Linked DNA regions of Homo sapiens: region 2 is linked to region 1. The links come from fine-mapping of genetic effects on gene expression. A gene starts in region 1. The other region holds a variant in brackets. All regions are shown on one strand. Distances are from middle to middle. Region 1 holds the start of EFCAB14 (EF-hand calcium binding domain 14). Region 2 overlaps MKNK1 (MAPK interacting serine/threonine kinase 1).

Region 1 (4,390 bases):
CTCTCCAGTAAAACTTTCTGTGGTGGTGGAATTGTACTATTACTTGCTGCCTGGTAGCCACTTGCCACATATGGCTACTGGACACTGTGGCCAATGATACTGAAGAACCAATTTAAAATTTGTATTTTGTTTTAATTATGTTAAATGTAGATTTAAATTGTTATATGTGGCCAGTTTGGCTACTGTATTGGGCAATGAAGCTCTAGAAACAAAAGGGGACAATACACCATGACTTGGGGCTTCAAAAACACTTTCACATTCATCTCATTGTCCTGTGAAATAGGTGTTTATCCCCATTTTACAGAGGAGAAAACTGAAGCTCAGAGAAACTAAACGGCTTCCATGCTGATGGAGCCAGGAAGAAGTAGAGACATGATTGAGTCCCAGGTTTCTTGATTTTGATTCCAAAAGTCCACTCATACCTCTTTGCAACACTGCCCACTTATGTAGTCATCACATATTTATTGGGTCATCGTTATTTAGGAGTACACTTCTGGGCTAGACACTTAAAAACAAATCAGATACAGGCCCAGGCTTTGCGAGAATCCTTGGACAAAAGCAGCGTAATTGCCACAGTAAGAATATGGGCATAAAAATTACTTTAAGTGACTTTCTTCCAAGTAGCTCAAAGCACTTTGCTTTAAATTCCATTTATATCTGATGACTTCCCAATTGATATTTCAGGCCCCAACCTGTGCCCAGAGAACTCTCAATGGGTATACCAAACAGCCTCCATTTGAATATTGAATTGGCTTGTCAAACTTGTCCCAAACTTGCTCTACCCCATCTCAATAAATAACAATTCCTTGCTTCCAGTGTTTCCACCGCCAAACCCTCTCTTCTCTTCACACCTTTCATCTAATCTATCAGCAAAAATTGTCAGCTCTGTCTTCAAGAAACATCCAGAATGCTCTCCATCTCTGCTACTGCCTCTCTAATCTATCAGCATCATCTCTAGCTGGACTGTAACAAACTGCTCTCCTGTGTTCCTCACTCTCCCCCCACTTTTTTCTACAAAGTAGCCAGAGTAATTTTTTCCTTTATTTTATTTTATTTTATTTATTTATTTATTTATTTATTTATTTATTTATTTATTTATTTATTTATTTTTGAGACGGAGTCTCGCTCTGTTGCCAGACTGAAGTGCAGTGGTGCAATCTCGGCTTGTTGCAACCTCCGCCTCCCGGTTTCAAGCCATTCTCTTGCCTCAGCCTCCCAAGTAGCTGGGATTACAAGCGCGCACCACCACGCCCAGGTAATTTTTGTATTTTTAATAGAGACAAGGTTTCACCATATTGGCCAGGATGGTCTCCATCTCCTGACCTTGTGATCCGCCCACCTCAGCCTCCCAAAATGCTGGGATTACAGGCGTGAGCCATCGCGCTGGCCCAGAGTGAATTTTTTTTTTTTTTTTTTTTTTTACGGAAAAGCCAGAGTATGCTACCTCTCAGCTTAAAGCCCCCAGTGCTTTCCCAAAGTCCTTTCAGTGATCCATAAGGCCCTAAAGCCCTGGCCTCTGATGCTTCTCTGACCTCATTTCCTATCACTCTGCTCCTTGCTCTTCTGGTCCAGCCACAACAGGTCTTCCTGGTCACTCCTTCCTGCAGCCACTGCACAGCTCATTCCCTCACCTCTCCTCCGATAAGCTGACTAAATGTTCCCTTTTCACAGAGGCACTCCCCATCACCTGACCGTGTTTCAATTTTCATCATAACACTTATCACCTCCTGACATTTAATATGTTTGCCTATTGTTGCTCTCCTCCCTCTAGAGTATAAATAAACTGCAGGAATAGATTGGCAGATAAGATACACGATGCTCAGTTAAACTTGCATTTCACATACACAATGAATAATTTTTTAGTGTGAGGATGTCCCAGATGTTGCATGGGATGTCTTAATGCTAAAAAATTGTTTGCTGTTTCTCTGAAATTCAAACTTTACTGGGTGTCCTACATTTTTATTTGCTAAATCTGGCAACACTATACAGGAAGACAAGGACCCTGGTTATTTTGTTCATGGCTGTATCCCCAGCGCTAGAACAGCTCCTGACACGTAGTAAGTAAGCTCTCAATAAATATTTATTGACTGAATGAATGTGTTAATTAATCTGAAACGCGCCTAAACTTTTAACAGCCTGTGTGAGAGTCAGAGAGGCGGAGCCTTCAGACTTGGTTAGTCCAGGGGGCGTGGGCGGCTGATGAACTTTCGAAGTAGGTCGAGCAGCCGGGCGCTTTGCCTGCCCCGCCCGCGCTCCGCAGGATGCAGGACTCCACCCGGCTCAGGTTCGCAGCAGGTCCCGGAAGCCCTCCTGGGGGCGGGGCCACCCTAATCGGCAGGTGGGACCCAGCCCCAGCCGGGGCAGGGCCCCTTTAACGCCCCACCTCTCCGCCACGACTTTCGCCCCGGCGTGACGTCACCCCAGCGGGCGACCAATGGGAGTGCGGCTTACTGGCAGGCGGCGCAGGCGGCCGCTGCCAAAGGGGAAGTGATCTGGGGCTGGAGCGATGGCCCGGGGCTGGAGCTCGCGGCCGCCGCCGCCGCAGCCGCCGCCACCAACGCCAACAACAACGTGTCGGGAGCAGCCGCGGCCGAAGCCGGAGCAGGGGCCGGAGTCGCGGCTGGAGTGGGGCCTGCGCGTGTGAGTGGCCGAGAGTTGCCCGTGCCGGAGACCTCAAACTCCGGGCGGGAGCGCTTTCGGTCGGCCGAGCCGCCGTCGCCCGCGGCACCGTGTCCCCAAGGCCCAGACAGCGGGGCGGGGGTCTATCAGGCGCGGGACTGGCTTCTCTCAGGCCGACCCTTCTAGCCGGGCTCCGGATCTTCCTCGGCCTCGGGCCCCCTTCACGTTCAGGACGGAGGCCGGAGAACGGTGATCATCACACACCCCAGCCGGCTTCCTGGCCAGGGCATTTTCTCTGCGGCCAAGCAGTGTTGGGATTGTAGCTGCTGGGAGCCCCCTCCTGCCGCCACCTCTCCTGCAAGGAAGGGACTGACGCGTTCCCACTTTCTTACTCTGCACCTCCCCACTCTCTTCCCATTCAAGAACGAGTTTCTCTTCCCTCTCCATTGGAAATCTTGCTCCGGAGGTCCGAAACACGTATTTTAAGCGTGCCCTTCCTCACCTCCTGGAGCACCCTTAGAAGTATTGCCTACTTATCCGGGCTGAGAATCCTTCATTTTTGACCTGGCTTTTTTTTCGCCCTTTGGGAGATAAAGGTCCCTCTCCACCCTCTACTAACACTCTGCACCCAAGGCCTTATCCTTTGGGGTCACCAGCTCCTTGGCCATTTCTATGTGATTTCCCCCACCCATCTGAGTTCCAGTTTCCTCTGGGCTCCAATCTCCAGTCCCTGGCGGATCTGGTCAGTCCCACCCCTAGGTGGGAGTGACCAGGGGGCTCTGGCCCAGGATTCCCAACCCTGGAAGGCAGCTCCAAGGCAGGAAGAGAATTGGGCATCGGGTACGAACCTGGCAGCTCAGGAGTCGGGGCTCCACTCACCCCACACAAAAAGATGAAAAAGCGCAAAGAGCTCAATGCATTGATTGGTTTGGCTGGGGACAGCCGGAGAAAGAAGCCCAAGAAAGGCCCAAGCAGTCACCGCCTGCTTCGCACTGAGCCTCCCGACTCAGACTCTGAGTCCAGCTCCGAAGAGGAAGAGGAATTCGGTGTGGTTGGAAATCGCTCTCGCTTTGCCAAGTGAGTAGTGGTGAAAGGTGGAATGGGAAGAAGGCATCTCCTTGCACTACCAAGGGGCCACATTGACAGGAAGGAGAAAGGAAGTCCTTAGGAAGAAAAAAGGGTGTAGGCCTTGGAAGTCAAAGAGGGAAAAACGGTTTTAGGGAGAAGGTAAGTTCAGATCCTGAATGAAGAATAAGTTAGAGATCTGTCTTTAGGTGTAGAAAGAAAAGCTCCAAATCTGAGGTGGAAATGTGGACTTGGAGAATGTGCCAAGAGCCCAGGGAGTCCTAAAGAAGCAAAGAATGGAGACAGAGGAGCAGAGAAGCTTTGGGGACTAGACTTTTTAAAACAGTGTAGAACAAAGGAGAAGCAGAGACTTTAAGACTGCAGATTATTTCGTTTTTGCACTCTTGATGAGTCTGAATATTGGTGGTGGGGAAATATGGTGAGAGATATACTGTAGGAAGTATGAGCCTTGAGAGTAGGTGGGGTCGGGGGGCAAAAGAAGAGGCATCATTTTCCCTAGCCATTCATAGGTGGAGAGACCACTAGGCAAATCAAGTAGTAAGATTTGAGGACATTGGGATTGGGGCTCAGGATGGGAAAGGACTAAAGGGAACTTCAAAAACGTCCTTTGACTCTCTCAGAGCACACTAAAAGAAAAGAGGATTCTGCTGAGGATGTAGAAACAATGGCTAGGCAGAAGGTCGGG
Region 2 (4,390 bases), 120 kb after region 1:
TCAAAGGCCCATGTTATCTTCCTTATGCTAGAGGCTCCAAATGCCCTGACTGGCGCTCGGTTTTCTCTGGCAGCAGGACGGAGGTTAGACTGGAGCAAAGATGGTCCCAGAATGGGGACATCAGTGAAGAGGCTTAAACGGTGAATCACTGGCCTAGTTTGGAAGCTGCATGGACTAGGTCTGCTTGATAGGTTTAATAGGTGATCATTTTGGCAGCACCCACAGTGCCATAAATCAGTGCATTGCCATCCTTAGCTAGTAGAATCTTAGAACCAGTTTACAGAAGCTGCAGGACCCTGGTATTTCAGGCATGGGTTCTGATGGGAGATTGACGTTACAAAAGGGTCTGTCGGGGGAGGCAGCCTGTTTGGCACATCCTGTCTCTTCATTTTCTCACCCTCAAATTCAACAAGAGTCTGTAAGTAGGACAGAGCACTAACTTGGAGTGCAGAGGCTGGCATTCAAGTCCTGCACCTGCTCATTATCATCTGAGAGTCCTCAGTCTGTTTCTTTCCTTTGTATTTGCTGTCAGATTATTCCCTCCTGCAGCCAGTTATGGTTCACAGAGTCGTTGGGTTGCTTTCCAGAGCCACAGCTGATCTGGGGAAGCCATATCAGAAGCGGGAATAACAGTTACTAGTTATTGGGTGCCTACTGTATGCCAGGCACTGATGCCATGAGCTCCATATACATTAGCTCACTTAATTCTCATGACAACTCTGTGATGTGGGTGTAATTGCCCCCATTTTATAGATGCTGATAATCAGAGGAGTATTTTGGTTCACTTCTGAGGCCTCAACTCTTGCTAATGTCCTGGCTTGGGACTGTATGAGGAAGAACTGAGAATATAAACAGGATTCAGAGAGACTAGAGTTTATATTCCAGCCTCTCATCCTTACAGAGAGACAGTAGTTAGGTATGTGGACTCTAGAGTCAGGCTATCTGGGTTTGAGTCCTGGCTCTGTCACTTGCTACCTGTGTGACTTGGGCAAGTTATTTAATCTTCCTGAGTTTCTGTTCCTTCATCTGTAAAATGAGAATACAAATATTACTTACCTCATGGGGTTGTTATGAGAATTGAGATACAACAGCACAGTGCCTGGCACACAGTAGGTGCTCAATGAATGTGAGCTTTAATAGTAATAATATTAATAAATATATGAATGCCCAGTTTGGTACTGTTTTTATAGAAAGTATATTTATTAGGGCCATTTTCCCTTCCCCCGCATTGTTACCTTCTCTTTCTTTCCATTGCCCTGTCAGGAACCTTTGAGATACTAGATTGTTCCAGCACATGGTTGCAATGCATAACATGGCAGAAAGTGCCTGTAGGAAATGGGTCAATAAAAATCAGTGGCTCGTTAGAAAATCTTACCTGACTTGTGTTTTCACCTCTCTCCACAGTAAACAGGAACAGAGCAGCACATATATTACTTTTTTCACAGCCTTCAACAAGAGTGCCAAGCAAGACTCCTCCAATTCACTTGCCAAAAGTACAATAACAGTATCTCTGGAAAAGTGGTGCCTAATTTGGTTCTTCTTTCTGTCCAGCTTAAACCCTTCAGGCCTTAACTTAAGCCATTTCTTCTTGTTCCATTTTCCATGAATATGGAAAAGTTTCTTCTGATTTTAAAGGGAGGATGAGATCAAGATTTTCTCATGAGAACCTTTTCTGTACTTAAAGCCAGAATCCAGTTAAACCTCATCTTCTCTTCTCCCGGCTAAACAGCCTTGGTCTCTTTAACCTCACTCTTAAAACCTGTTTTCCATTGCTTGGATCACATTGGTCATGCCTCTTTTCTTTCTCTTCGGTTTTTCTGCTTTGTGGCAGTGACCCAGACTGTACTCGGTCTTCTAATAAGAGTCCAGCTAAAACAGCTTAAGGGAAGAATAACTTCAGCTGTTTCCATCCATTCATTAACAATTATGAAGTGGTTGCCCCATACCAGAGCCTCTGCTAGGTGTAGGGGTCCCAGAGATGAAGGAGACATAGTCTCTACCCTGTCCCTGGCTAACAGTCTAGGGGAAGATGCGTAATAAAATGTTACAGGTAATTTAATTATGCACAAGTGTAGGAAGCTGGGAATTGGTTAGAGCAATCAGGTGGAAATACAGTCCCTTTTGACGAGACTGCAGGTTAAGACTCCCATAGAGGGTTGGTCTGGGACAAGTTGATGGAGGCCGTGAGTGACAGCACAGAAGCTTGGTTACTCCAGAGGCAGTGGACACCCATTAGAAGTTTTAGAGCAAGGAAGTAACAGGTCGAGATCTGGCTTTTTGGACCAAGGGTAGAGATGCCATAAACCTTAGCCTTACCTGTGCCTCACTGATGTTTTCTGTCTTGAAAGTAATGTGATGGATCTTTTGTTTGTATACATGGTGATTTTTTTTTTTTTTTTTGCTCTAAAACGTCTGTAGAAGGTCTAGTTCTTAAGCACTGAAGAAATTTAATTCCCAGTACAGCAAGAAATT[C/T]ATGAACAATTGAGAGAGAATTGGGTGCCTCGCCAGGCCCAGCCTACTTAAGACCCAGCTGCAGGCCGATGGATCTGTGTAGGTTTGGTCTGGCCATGGTCACCCTTCCCCACCCCAGCCCTATACCAGCAGGAGGTACAGGAATGAGGAGAGGGCTCCAGGGTCCATCTGGGTAGTTGGTAAAGAATGCTAAGAATCTTTAAGAACTGTGAGAGTCAGAAGTAATTTTTGAGGAGGAAAAAGGGACCAGAGGAATTTTAAATGGTGCCAGAAGGAATTAGGGCTAACCAGGCACTTAGAATCCTGTGACATGTATCTGAAAACCTCCACATTCTCTCTCTGCCTTTGTATTTGCTGTCAGTTTATTCCCTCCTGCGGCCAACTGTGGTTCACAGATTGGCTGGGTTGCTTTCCAGAGCTGCAGTTGATCTGGAGAAGCCATGTCAGAAGCTGGAATAAGAGTTACTATTGAGTGCCTACTGTATGCCAGATACTGGTGCCACGAGCTCTATATACATTAGCTCACTTAATTGCCATGACAACTCTGTGATCTAGGTGTTATTGCCCCATTTTATAGATGATGGTAGTAAAGCTCAGAGAGTTTGAATTTTATGTCCAAGGCTACCCGGCTGGTAGATGGTAGGGCCAGAACTGGAACCTAGGACCTAATGCCCAAAAGCCCTGTGCTTTCTACTTCCCCAGCCTAAGGTGGCTCCACGTGGCAAAATAACACAAAGCCCATAAGGAATTCTGAGGGGTTTTTTTTCTACTGTAGGCCAAGGGTTGGCAAAGTATGGCCCACAGGCCATATTTGACTCACTGCCTGTTTTAGTGTGGATGCAAACTAATGTACTTTTTACATTTTTATGTGGTTGGGGAGAAATCAAGAAAAGATCAATATTTTATGACACATGAAAATCTATGAAATTTAAATTTCAGTGTCCAAAAATAAAGTTTTATTGACATATAGCTACAATCATTGATTTACATATTGTCTACTGCTTTCTCTCTACAAATGCAAAATTGAGTCATAACAAAGATCATGTGACACACAAAGCTTAAAATATTTACCATCTGGCACTTTACAGAAAAAAAATTGCCAACTCCTACCATAGGTAACAAGAAGGGACCAGGTGGGGGTCTAAACCTATGACAAGACTAAAGACAGAATGGAAGCTCAAGGCCAGGCGTGGTGGCTCACGCCCATAATCCCAGCACTTTGGGAGGCTGAGACAGGCAAATCACGTGAGCTCAGGAGCTCAATACCAGCCTGGGCAACATGGTGAGACCCTGTGTCTACAAAAAATACAAAAATTAGGCGTGGTGGCTCGTGCCTGTAGTTTCAGCTACTTGGGAGGCTGAGGTGGGAGGATCACTTGAGCCTGGCAGGTGGAGGCTGCAGTGAGCCAAGATCATGCCACTGCACTCCAGCCTGGCTAATGGAGCCAGATCCTGTCGTTGGATGGTGTTCAAGGCTGTCCCTGGAAGTGTGGTAGTAGAAGTGAAGAAAGAGAGCATACCCTGAGTTTCCTTAGGCCCTGGAAACAGTTTTACTGGGTTTCAGATTTGTTTGGGAATAAAGAGCATAGTAGGAAGGACTGTCCAATGTGCTAACATCTTTATTGGATGTTAAAGAGATATTTCGTGTATTAAGTAATTCATTCAGATTCACTAGAGCCCATTTTTGCCAGATACTATGTTAGATGCTGGTAATGCAAAGATGAAAAAGGTAAGTGCTTGCCTTTGAGGAATAACTGGCAGGATGACGTGATCTGATAGGGAAGAAGAGAAGTCAGAGGAAGGAGGCAGTGGGTGGGGGTTGGGCACAAGTCCCACTTGGGGCATGTGGTTTGAGGTCATGGTGAAACACACCCAACTTCCAGTTAGAAAGCCTTTTTAGAAATTTTGGCTCAGAATT

The links. PIP is the estimated chance that this variant, and not a neighbour inherited with it, causes the effect. A credible set is the group of variants that fine-mapping cannot tell apart.
Region 2: its variant is the best candidate, but not a certain one, in a credible set for the expression of EFCAB14 in whole blood (TOPMed, PIP 0.80).

Annotation. Positions count from the first base shown.
Region 1 is chr1:46,717,209-46,721,598 of GRCh38, reverse strand. EFCAB14 (EF-hand calcium binding domain 14) reads left to right here and starts at 2,485. Exons shown (of 11, transcript NM_014774.3): 1 at 2,485-3,696. The coding sequence starts at 3,512. RefSeq lists silencers at 2,261-2,310, 2,631-2,680.
Region 2 is chr1:46,595,311-46,599,700 of GRCh38, reverse strand. The region is part of intron 1 of MKNK1 (MAPK interacting serine/threonine kinase 1); the gene reads left to right. Among named protein-coding and RNA genes, the nearest start is that of MKNK1, 6.8 kb to the left of the region's middle. The variant C/T (reference allele first, on the strand shown) is at 2,473.